3 separate regions of the Homo sapiens genome follow, and all the other regions are reported to be linked to region 2. The links are microRNA targets in miRTarBase. Many come from high-throughput screens and were not tested one by one. Region 2 holds a microRNA gene; each other region holds the end of a gene's coding sequence.
What was found. The annotated mature microRNA hsa-let-7a-2-3p reads CUGUACAGCCUCCUAGCUUUCC and lies in region 2 at 2,619-2,640, shown strand. An mRNA with a match to its seed (bases 2 to 7 or 8) in the 3' UTR can be bound and repressed. Matches are read on the target gene's strand: a 7mer-m8 pairs with bases 2 to 8, a 7mer-A1 pairs with bases 2 to 7 and ends in A, and an 8mer does both.

Region 1 (4,247 bases), not on the chromosome of region 2:
TTAAAGTAACATTACAAACATATACTACTAGTGTCTCCCAGTACAAGGAGCAGTCTCTTGACTCAAAAAATGAAAACTAATATGTGGAAACTCTTAAAGTTTTCCCACTAATCTATTTAAATGTAAATATCTGTCTTCTAGTTGGAGTCCTTCATGTTTTTGTTTCCAACTCAGAGAAAATGAGAATAATGAAGATACTCTTCCTTGCTCGTTTTTCTTAAGAGTACATAAAGATAATATATAATGTATTTCATTGAGGAGGAAGAGAAGTAGCAAGGATTTCAATGAAGACATAATGATTACAAACCAGTGTACTATACAGATTTCAGAAGCAGAAACAATGCTGAACAGCCTGCTCAAGTTTTAAATAAACTGTCTTCTCACTCAAAGTACTGATACAACAGAGAAGGTATGTAAACAGGAACAGTTTGCATGGGGATTGGAAAAATGTATAGGAAATTAATATTTCTTAAAAGCTCCCTGCGATAGGAAGTCGAAAACCCAATCACTTTGCATCTTTCTGCAAAAAATTCCCCACCCAATCAACCATATAAATGCATTGCCACAGAAGATAAATAATGGATGGCTAATTTTCACCTTACAGTGCAGTACACAATTAGTTGAGAAAAAAAATAAACATAAGATATATATTATAAAATGTTTTGTCAACAAAAACAAACTTTGAGAAACATGGCGCACTATAAAAGCTAAGAAACTCATTCACGAAGCACTGCTTGTGTACACCACATATTCCAGACTTTTTCCAAGTAACATTCTATGTTAACAGTTTAGAGCTACTAATTCAGAGAGGTCTTATTTCTCACTGCTTGCATTTTAAAGAAATATGTCTAAAGCGCATTGTAAACCACTAATATTTACAATAGCAAAAAAAAAAGCTCATAAAATGCATTTTGGCCATGTTTCAGAGAATACTTAACAGGTCAACATCGTTCTGTGTTGTGGTTGGCCTTGTGTCTTACATACAGGAGATGCCTAACATCTAATAACCAAGAGTTTCAACTGAATTATATAACCATTTTCTTCAATACTTACATGTGCCAATTTTAGGCAGAAACCACAGTATGATATTCCAGGTGGTGTGGTAATCCCAACCTTGAAAAAAAGCCCAACGAATGTAATTTTTTGTTTTCTAGGTACAAAGCATAAAAAACTAGCCCCAGGTAAGGCAAACAAAAAGTCAATAAGGAAATCTGGAAAAAAAGGCCATTGCAGTTATACACAAATCTGTTCATGTTGCCAAACAAAATCTCATGGCTGAACTTCTGTAGCTTGTGAGGTACTAACAACTTACATGCAATGTATGAAAAAGAGACGCCGTGTATTCAGAGTTTTACATCCTGAAGACATTAAGCTGGTCTATTTTCAAGTTACCAATGCATGGCCCTATAACAAACATCGTATAAAACATACACACCTTCATGGAAACTATCTTATCTCCCAACTCTGGTAAACACAAATAGTAAGAGAAAACAACTTCTAACTCACTTTGACAAAACTTTACAGACTTGGCCCCTAATTAGACAACAAATAAATAAAGGGGAAGTCAAAACGGAAGGGGCAATAAGGAGAAAGGGGGAATCTAACTCTTGTTCTAAAGAGACATTCTGGCACTTCATCACAGCCAGTAGAAGAACAATGTAAAACCTCCATCTCACTACACATTTGACGTCTTCCACTCCAAACGCTCTAATCTAGTCAGAAAAGAGCACAGCTCTTCGCTGAAAGTCCCCCAGGGTTCCCTGCATCAAGCCACTACAGGGTTATTGAAAAATATAATACTTCACTTAAGGATATGCTGCTTTTCTCCTTGAAAACATTTTGTAGACCTGTACTCATTTAATTAGGGTTGCAGAGGAGATGGAAAAACAAGCTGTTTGATTATGAAGGCAACACTTCTGTCAGTAGAATTGCTTTGGATTGTAAATATGTTTACTTCAGAGGAAATCAGTCAGAGTGGATGGCTCAGCAAAACCCATCACAACTGCGGAAAAAGGAAGTGACTGGCTAGAGGTAAGGAAATAGATTTTCTCTAAGTTAACTGGCCTACGTGTGAATCGAACCCTGCACCCTGGCCTCATTAGCACCAACACTGTGAAGAACAGCTGTGGCAGAGAAAGTGCCACGGCCCCACCCCATCACCAGATTCAGTAGAAAGGCCCTTGGAATTTCCTACAAGGTTCAGTTCTGAACAGCTCCACTTCAAATCAGTATAGAATCCTCACAGTGACTCTGTGAGGGAGGTAAATGTCACTGCTCCCCGTTGGTGGGGGAAACAGAGGCCAGAGTGGTTAAAGATTTTGCCTGAAGTTAAAACAAAAAATGAAAAGTCACTTGGACTGCAGGGAAGAATACTTACAATACAAGGCAATTAAAAAAAAAAAAAGAAAAAAGTTGAGCCAACCTGTCACTCTTCACTCAGATGCCATGAAAGACATCATCACCAGACAGTCCCCACACTCTTGCCACTTGGCAGGACAGGCTCCATGACAGAGGATTTTTCACTCTGTGGAAATATAAAGCCTATCTCTTTTCCCATGGGCAGAGAGAAATATGAAGTCACTTGAGTGCCTGGACAAGTACTTCCAAATTTATAGCTGATGCGAGGTGAGGAGTGGACAGAATTGGCGGGAAGGAATAGTAACAAATTAAATACTGCACTAATGGGTTAGTTACAGACATGAATTTTTCCAAATATAATCTCACAGGTCTAATTTAATCCCTCTGCACGAGACAAGTGCCTCTGTCTACAACACCTGTAATGTCTGTACCACGTCATGCAGTCACATTGGAATTACTGCATGCACTCTTCACTAAAGCTTAATGTACCTGAATTCCAAATGAACTGTATGACTAATCTGGGGAAAAACCATACACACAGAATACATCAAGTTTTCTTTCAAAAGAAAGTCCAGCCATAATTCCATTATATCCATGGCAACTATCACCTGTTAATGCTAATGTTAGTGTGTAAAAATGTATTCATCATATACAGAGAGATTATCAAGTACTGGTCAATAAAGTGTACAGCTGACCCTGAGAATAAATTTTTGCTTGCTTAAAAGATTAAGTAATACAAAATAAAATGAAAATGAAAGATGCCTATTCTCGTACTTGGGAAGAAATGTCTTTAAAATGCTGACTAATGTATAACCTAATATATTTAAAGACACCCCCAAACACTGTAATTATATTGATATGTTTCCAGAAATAATCTGAAAAAGTGTACAAAAAAAGTAAATGTTAAAGGCAAGGCATTATGTGATACACAGCATATAAATCTGATTTTCAAGATAGTGTCTAAATACACTGATAAAACTATGTGATTGGTTATCAATTGGTTGTAAAGAGACAACATTTTCACTGTACATATACACACATCCATACATGTAAGCACAAACCAAGAGAAACCAACCAACAAAACTTGAAACTATTAGTAATTGTACTGACGCGGGCAGGGCTGATGAACAACCCAGCCATTGTGCTTGACTTGCCGAGGGTGGCAATCCCTGGTAAGATTTTGGCGACGAAGGCTATTTCTGTTAAGAGGCTGTCTTTCACTGTGTTCTTTTATCCACTGGGAAGGGCGAAAGCTCTTGGGTTGTTCCAGAAAAGTTGTATGAGCAGCAAGAGCTGCAACATAACAATGAATATGCTGCCCCATTTCATTTTGAGCTTCCACTCTGAAACAGAAAAAAGTGGGGATGTATTAAATAACAGAGTATGTTATTAACAAAACTGGAAAAGTTACTTAGCAATTCAATTTGCCACGCTAATTTGTTTATGGCTGAATGAGAGCTTGTGTTTCATGGCTGACAGACAAGTTTATTATTCTGTGACCCCACTGACTGATAGTGGTGGAAAGGAGAGCCAACTGTTACTAGAAAGATGCCATATAAGCCCCAGATGGCTCACTAAGTAGACTGTTTTCTAAAAATACACTTTAAACTTTGAATTTCATTTACGGAGCACACACATTTATATAAGCTTGTCTGGGAGGGGAGCTAACATTTATTGAATATCTGCATTTGCCAATTCTTTTGCAAATATATATTTTAATTCTCACCATAATCTTAAAAGGAAAATATTTTAATTCCCAAATTTTACTGATCAGAAAGCAGTGTGCTCACAATACCTTCACAAGACATTTCCTGTCTATAAGTAAAATGTTCCAGGAAACATGCTTTAAATCTTTATTTAATAGAAATTTGCATATGGAAATTCTACTC
Region 2 (4,251 bases):
TACCTGAAGATATACTACTGTTGTTCACCTATAAATACTACTTCTTGTTTTATTTTTCACTCGTACTTTTCGATAAGAATTTTTATGACATCATTCCATATCATAATTGCATGTTGTTATTACATGCCTACAAATATTTACACTAATTATGTAATGAGCCATAATTGCACTAATACATGATAATGGGCTAAAATCAGTGTAAATAAACAAGGAAATTCACAACCAAAAGAGCAGGGTATTGAAAACCATTAGTATTCTAAGAGCAGCATCTTTATATCTTTGACCCCCAGAATAAGAACGTACATGGAAAAAGATCAATTTTTCCATTTCTGGGTATTTAAAAGCCCTCTGAACTGTATGTTGTGGCTGATTGACTAGCACTCTAGCACATGGATCTTATCCTCTCTTTGTTGTGTCTTCCTTTGTCAACACTTACTGCCCTTCCCCTGCCTTGTGTCCCATTCATAAGGGTTATATATCGTGATTGTGCTTACAGAGTCAGGCACAGTGTCACTGCAAGGTGAATGAAAAAATTCAAATTAAGAGGAAAGAAAATGAATTATATATTCTTTTTTGGTCACAGTAAGTGTTAAATCTTCTACATAAGTGAGCATCTAGTAGCAGAAGACTTGGAAATACATCTTGAGTTTCCATAGGAGATCTGGGATTTAAGGTTAAACCGGCCAGGTTGAATTCAGCCACTCTGATTTTTTGCCCTCTCTGGAATCTTAATAGCAAATCCATCTTACTATGAGTGAAATTCTAACATAAGTGGAAGAACAAAGGATTGGACATAAAAATAAAAATGATCATCCCTTAACTGTAAGTTCATTTATACTCCCATTTATCCATTTATGCATATATTCTTCTTTTCATTTGACAAAGTTTTTTTTTTTTTTTAAATTTCTATATGTGCCATCTACTCGCCATTGCAGATAATACCAGATTGGCAAAGGTGAATTATGGGGTCCCATTTTCACATAGCTTGGGGTCCAGCGAATGAGACAAACAGATAAACTATAATGCAATGATGTGAGAATTAAAGCATAAATGCATATATGAAATTGTGAGATAATCAGAGGAAGAACTCTTTCAAATGAGGCTTGAAGGATGAATGAGAGTTTTTTTTTTTTTTTGATAAAACTAACCTCCCAGTCTTTCTCCCAAACTAGGTAGCCTTGATCTAACAGAGGCAGCCCCCCCGCTCCGCCCCCCAAAAAAAGCAGTTTCACCTCATCAAAGCATAAGGAAATAGGGTTGGAAACATTGGAAAAAAAATCACTTTTCTCCAGGCTAGTGGAATAACATGAAGAAACATCAATGCTATGGCATTTGAATCTGTCTTTTGAACACGATCAGTGCAGTAGAAGTATCAGGAAGATTCTCAGTGTGCTCAGATGTGCCTCCATCTCTATTTGCCTAGGCTGACCTAGCTCCTTTGTAGCACAGCCTTTACTGGGCAAAACCAGAGTCCAGCTAAGCAATGAGGAGAGGTGGCTTCTGATAGACCACAGAGCAGTCCTTGTGGGAAAATATAGACCTGACCAAACTTGAGTTTACATAGAAATGAGAAGTTGCTAAGCTTGTAGGAGCCTATCTCCTGCTCCAGCACCTGCCTGGGACTGAAGATACAAGAAAGATTCAGTTTAAAATTATGAGGTGGGTGTATCACAAGGTCAGGAGTTTGAGACCAGCCTGGCCGACATGGTGAAACCCCGTGTCTACTAAAAATACAAAAATTAGCCGGGCATGGTGACACACTCCTGTAATTCCAGCTACTCAGGAGGCTGAGGCAGAAGAATCACTTGAACCAGGGAGGCAGAAGTTGCAGTGAGCCAAGATCGCAGCACTGCACTCTAGCCTGAGTGACAGAGCAAGACTCTGTCTTGGAAAAAAAAAAAATTACAAGTGCAAACAGGGAAATAGGCACATTTTGTAGGTTGTTGAATAGACTGTTGGGGACAGATTTATGAGAAATGCTGAAACAGTCAACTCTGGAAAAAGGAGCACTTTCTAAATATGAGAATTATGTAAAATACATGATAAATATTGTTGGGTGGATGTTCAATATAGCTTTTGCGGTATTTCTTAATCTGTATTTTGCTCAGAATCATGTTTTCTATGTCTTTTCACTGTGTTTTGGTTTAAGCCATTTCTTCTTATATATCCATCTTTTAGTGATTCCAGTTTTTCAGTTTTACCAGAGGAACATTTATTTTTCTAATCTTTTTTTAATTGCCCAAGTTTAAATATTGTTCTACTATTCTATTTCGTCAACAGATATCAGAAGGCATTAAATTGTTCAGAATCACCATTATGTAACATTACTATAATTTCCATGCACAAATAGTTCAAGAAGGCCAGTCCCAAGTATTTGCTCCCTTCATGTTTTCATGGTAATCTCAAGCCAAGGTTTTTGTGTTATCTCTTCTATCATCAGACTCTTTGATATGTTGTCTCTTATGAATGGCCCAAATAGGTGACAGCACGATGAATCATTATAAGACTAACTTGTAATTTCCCTGCTTAAGAAATGGTAGTTTTCCAGCCATTGTGACTGCATGCTCCCAGGTTGAGGTAGTAGGTTGTATAGTTTAGAATTACATCAAGGGAGATAACTGTACAGCCTCCTAGCTTTCCTTGGGTCTTGCACTAAACAACATGGTGAGAACGATCATGATTCCTCCAGGCCTTTTCTCCCTATGAAAGGTAAGATTGGGTACGATTATTTTATGGTATTTTAGAATTCAAGTTTTGTTTAATCCTTGTACCCATGCTGTATTTTCATATTCTGTTTCCTCGGGTTAGATTTTGTTTTAAGAAAAATGTGAGGCTTTGAGGGATTCAGTATATCAGGTGTCCATTGTCACAAAAATGCTGCATAATAAACACCAAATTGTCACAAAAAATGCAGCATTGTCACAAAAAAATGCTGCATAATAAACACTACAAAGCCTCAGTGGCATACAATAAATGCATATTTAGCTCATGAGTCTGTGTATCTGTGATTTACACAGGTTTTCTGGTCTTGCCTGGGCTCATTTCTTCTGGCTGTCAGCTCTAAGATGGGGTCACTAGATTGATGGGGGCAGCTAATTTCTGTGCTATGTGTCACATCTGACAACAGATTAGTTCTAGCACATTCTTATGGTAAAGGCAGAGGAATAAGAACAAGGACAAGCCAAGTGACTTAAGGATCTTACAAGCTTCTGCCTGCTTTGTATTTGCTAATATCTCATTGGTCAAAGGAAGCCACATGGCCAATCCTGAAGGCAGAGTGGCCACTACTACAAAGTTTCATGGCAAAGGACATGAACTCAGGAAGGCATTACAAATTGGGGCTGTTTTTTTGCAACTGTATTGCACTTTCTTAGATATCATCAAATTAAAAGAATTTTGTACTCTCCACTCAAGGAAGTTTCCAAGATAAAGAGCCATGTTTTGGAATTCACATTTTGGGTTTTAGGCTAAGCTGGTCTTTGAATGCAATTTTATATCCCTCTTATTGAGATATGCTCTAGCCAACCTCTATGAAAACTTCTATGGAAAAATACCAAAAGACTGGAATAGTAATAATGTAGAGATTGATTATCTCAAAGCATAAACTTGGTCATTTCATAGTGATAACCAATGTCATGAACAACAGACATTTTACCTGTCTTAGATGGAAATCCCACAATCTACAAAGAGCATATGAGCAGCCAAACCAGCACTCAAATCCAGATCTGTCAATTAGGAAGGAGTTAGTTGTTCCATGTCTGGATACTTTTCAGTAGAAAATACAGATGGGTAGTCAGAAGGTACATAATGAGGTATTTAGTCCATTTTATTATTTTCTGGTAGTTTAATGTACAAAATATGTCAAAGGAAATGGTTATGCAGTCTGTAGTTATAGTTTCTCTCTCTCTCTCTCTCTCAGCTACCTCAAAGAAAAGATGAAATTCCCTGTGTCAGGATTTTGATTCTATGCTCAAATATTTTTATGGTGAATTACCACCAGTGATTGTCATGTTACTAAGAGGTCAAGAATAACTAGCCCCATGTCATAAAGAAGCACGGCTGAAGGTTCGATGTTACTTTGAAACCACCCTGGTACTCTGCAGCAGAACTAGGAGCAAGACTCAAAGGCTGCTGTGCCGTCTTTATTTCTTAGCTCATTCTTTCATTCTTTAGAAGGGACTATGCCTTGCTTTAGAAGATGCTGTCATTACTTTGTGACATTTATTATGAGTTTAACATTAAGCATACTTG
Region 3 (4,251 bases), not on the chromosome of region 2:
TATTTTTAGTAGAGATGGGGTTTAGCCATGTTGGCCCGGCTGGTCCCAAACTCATGACCTCGAGTGATCCACCCACCTTGGCCTCCCATAATGCTGGGATTATAGGCATAAGGCACCATGCCCAACCAGAAGAAAAACATTTTTTATAAATTTTAGTGTCACCTAAGTGTACGGTGTTTATAAAGTCTACAGTAGTGTACAGTAATGTCCTAGGCCTTTACATTCACTCACCACTGACTCATCCAGAGCAACTTCCAGTTCTGTAAGCTCCGTTAGTAAGTGCCCTATACAGGTATACCATATATATATATATACACACACCATATATATATATACTATATATATATATACCATATATATGGTATATATATATATATAGTATATATATATATATATATTTTTTTTTTTAGATGGGGAGTCACTCTGTCACCCAGGCTGGAGTGCAGTGGTATGATCATGGCTCACTGCAGCCTTGACCTTGCCAGGCTCAGGTGATCCTCCAACCTCAGCTTTTGTACTTTTAGCAGAGACGGGGTTTCGCCATGTTGCCCAGGCTGGTCTTGAGCTTCTGGGCTCAAGCAATCCACCTGCTGAGGCAGCCTCCCAAAGTGCTAGGATTACAGGCGTGAACCACTGCACCTGACCAGATTTTTTACAAAATCTTTTATACCATATTGTTATTGTTGTAGTATCTTTTCTGTGTTTAGATGTTTGAATAAACAGACACTTGCCATTGTGTTACAATTGCCTACATGATTCAGAACAGCAACATGCTGTAGCCTAGGAGCAATAGGCTATATACATGTCCTACATGTGTAGCAGGCTACACTATCTAGGTTTGTGTAAGTACACTCTATGATGTTCCCACAACGATGAAATAACCTAATTAGACATTTCTCAGAGTGCATCTCCATCATTAAGTGAGGTATGACTGTACATGTGAAGTCACAGTTCATGTCTGATTATTCCCACTAATAGAAGAGTACAAAGGTACAGTGAAACCAAAAAAAAGAGCAGATAACTTAAAAACCATAACTTGTGCATATGTTTTCATTTTATACTTGTGTCCAAATGTTTAGATGAGAACTGATACAAATTCACAGGTTTTTAAAAATGCTGCCTGAATAATCAAAACTCTTTTTACTTTTCTTGCCCTACTATAGATAGCATCAGTAATGTTTATACAGAGTAGCACCATCGGACAAACTACTTTCCCTTCTCCCATCATAGAGTATAAGGCTGTCTGTATTATGGCTTAAAACATTAGCAATGACTTAATAGTTTTCAACATACAGCTGATTTTGTTGGAGAAAGGTGTTACAGTATAGTCTTGTTAAGAACTTTATGTTTTACTGAGGAAAATGTCAACATATAATCAGTGAAAGTGGTCTACATATGATGTAATAATTGTTCATAATTCTTTTTAAACAACAAATGGGGGTAAATATGAATGAAAGAAGTAAAACACATCTGGAACCTCGCGTTGTTCAGGGTTTTTGAGGCAATTCAGAGCTAACTGCAAGATTATGCTATGAAACTGAAGCCATTTCTATATCATAGTGAGAATTCTAATGTACCAGAAACAGGCAGAAAGCCATCTTCAGAGAATGAAGACTCAAAGATAAACAACGGCACAGCAAACTGAAGAGAGAATTAGACCCCAGGGAAATTTTCACTTTTCATTAGTAGAGGGCAGTAGAAGACACTGAACTTGGGGACTGAATACTGGTTCTGCAGGTTAGTGCTGACCCTGGGCATAACAGTCAATCTTTTTGAATGACAATTTCCTCGTCTATAAATTAGGTACAGTGAGATCCACCAGCTTGTTTTATGACTCAGAGCCATGAAAAGCGAAGATAATAATGCACTTAATATCATTTTGTACACTATAAAGGGCTACTCTTAGAAAATGAAGATTTGATAACTTTAAAAAAAAGAATTAAAGATAAAAGCCAATTTAAAATAAAATTATATATATTTTTTTCTTTTTTAAAATCCAGGATAGGTATTTATTCAATAGTAGCTGCTGTAGGTCTGCTTCTTTTTTTTTTTTTGAGATGGAGTCTTGCTCTGTCACCCAGGCTGGAGTGCAGTGGCACAATCTTGGCTCACTGCAACCTCCGCCTCCCGGGTTCAAGCAAATCTCCTGTCTCAGCCTCCCGAGTAGCTGGGACTACAGGTGTGCACCACCACGCCTGGCTAATTTTTGTATTTTTAGTAGAGACAAGGTTTCACCATGTTGGCCAGGCTGGTCTTGAACTCCTGATCTCAAGTGATCCACCCTCCTTGGCCCCCAAAGTGCTGGGATTACAGGCATGAGCCACCACACCCAGCTAACTTCAGTTTTTGATGAGACAGAAATGGGAAAATGTAGACTGGTTTACTACTTTATCTTATGATACAATGTTATTGTAGTATAATATACTATAGACTACCCATTAAAGAACCAGGAAGGATATTCCGCTAGCCTTAAGAAGTAAATATTGAATATAAATATAACTTTCTACCTCATCTATAACATATTGATACATTTTATTACAAAGAAACTCACACATAAATGATTTGTCCTATTTATCATAATAGGCCACCAATCACTAGGAGCCAAGCTTCATCAGCTTAAGTCCTAGGTAGCATGTCTCAATGCATACATATTTATATGTTATTAACCGTGTTTCTTTTCTTTTTTTCGAGACAGAGTGTCCAGGCTGGAGGTGATCTCGGCTTACCGCAACCTCCGCCTCCGGGTTCAAGTGATTCTGCCGCCTCAGCCTTCCTGGGTAGCTGGGATTACAGGCACGCATCACCACGCCCGGCTACTTTTGTATTTTTAGTAGAGATAGGGTTTCTCCGTGTTGGTCAGGCTGGTCTCGAACTCCCAACCTCAGGTGATCCGCCCGCCTCAGCCTCCCAAAGTGCTGGGATTACAGGCATGAGCCACCATGCCTGGCTATTAACCTTGTTTCTAACTTCAGCATTGCACATCTCCTTAGTAAAGCAGTAGCCATTAACAAGTCAGGTCCAACAACCATTTTCCTCTGGTCCTCAAGCAGAGACTCAGAGCCAGTTACACATAAACTATTTCATTATAACATGAAAATAGCAAGCCTTGGGCTATTGCAAAAGGCTTTTCAAATGTTGACCTCTAACTTGGAGAAAATAGAGGGAAGCAGAAATATAGGGTGCTAATTTGTGCTATAACCTGGTCTCATGTCGTGGTATATTCCCAGTTGCAACATTTTAAATTTATAAGTGAGAAAGTAAAACAAAGCTTCATATCTGTGAAAGTGAAAAATTGTCCAGAAGTCTTCTATTCAAAGACCAATTAGCTTTTTCTTCCCAATAACTTATCAGAAAGAAATGGGTACTTAGAAACCTAAGGGGTTCTTTAAATAGGAGTCAGAAAAAATATATAAAAATAAAAAACAAAGCAAGAAAGAACATTGTATAAAAATAAAATGTTCTTTAAAGATGACTGCCCTCTCTTGAAAGATGAGTGCTATATTAAAAGGGTAGATGTATCTCTATAACTCATCGTGTTTATATGTAAATTCTCTGGCAGATATAAACCCATCTTTGTCTTCATCTTCTTTATCAAAAATATCCTCCACCAAAGCATCATGATGACTTTCATTCACCACCGCACCATGTTTTTCAAACTCCTTCTTTAAATATGCTTTAACCTACAAAATAACAGATCCCATTAATAACTTGGATTCATAAGATACCCACATTGAGCCAATCAATATCACAGACATGGACTGTTATTATATTTAGTTCATTAACTAAATATAATACCTTCTAAACAGCCATTTTATGACATAGTTTTAATGATAATTAAAAAATAATAGAAACTTTTTCCCTTAAAAAAACTGTTGCTAAACTGCTAAAGTGGAGACACAAAATATTGCTCAAAGGCAGGGCCAGGTGTGGTGGCTCATGCCTGTTATCCCAGCACTTTGGGAGGCCCAAGTGGGAAGATTGCTTGAGGTCAGGAGTTGGAGATCAGCCTGGCCGACATAATGAAAGCCCATCTCCACTAAAAATACAAAAAAAAGTTAGCCAGGCATGATGGCATGCGTCTGTAATCCCAGCTATTCAGGAGGCTGAGGCAGTTGAATCGCTTGAACCTGGAAGGCAGAGGTTGCAGTGAATCGAGATTGCGCTGCTGCCCTCCAGCCTGGGCAACAGAGTGAGACTCTGTCAAAAAAATAAAAAATTAAAAAATTAAAAATATATATATATATATAGCTC

Region 1: the mRNA of TP53INP1 is a reported target of hsa-let-7a-2-3p. Seed matches in the 3' UTR shown: 7mer-m8 at 3,042-3,048.
Region 3: miRTarBase lists FKBP14 as a target of hsa-let-7a-2-3p. Seed matches in the 3' UTR shown: 7mer-A1 at 1,880-1,886 and 7mer-m8 at 196-202.

What each region holds. Positions count from the first base shown.
Region 1 is chr8:94,927,028-94,931,274 of GRCh38, forward strand. It overlaps TP53INP1 (tumor protein p53 inducible nuclear protein 1), which reads right to left. Exons shown (of 4, transcript NM_033285.4): 4 at 1-3,701. The coding sequence ends at 3,452. It also overlaps a transcript of NDUFAF6 not described here. Among named protein-coding and RNA genes, the nearest start is that of TP53INP1, 20 kb to the right of the region's middle.
Region 2 is chr11:122,144,912-122,149,162 of GRCh38, reverse strand. It overlaps MIRLET7A2 (microRNA let-7a-2), which reads left to right and starts at 2,570; the gene lies at 2,570-2,641. All of the region lies in intron 4 of MIR100HG (mir-100-let-7a-2-mir-125b-1 cluster host gene), which reads left to right.
Region 3 is chr7:30,011,214-30,015,464 of GRCh38, forward strand. It overlaps FKBP14 (FKBP prolyl isomerase 14), which reads right to left. Exons shown (of 4, transcript NM_017946.4): 4 at 1-3,680. The coding sequence ends at 3,522. The region is part of intron 2 of FKBP14-AS1 (FKBP14 antisense RNA 1); the gene reads left to right. Among named protein-coding and RNA genes, the nearest start is that of FKBP14, 13 kb to the right of the region's middle.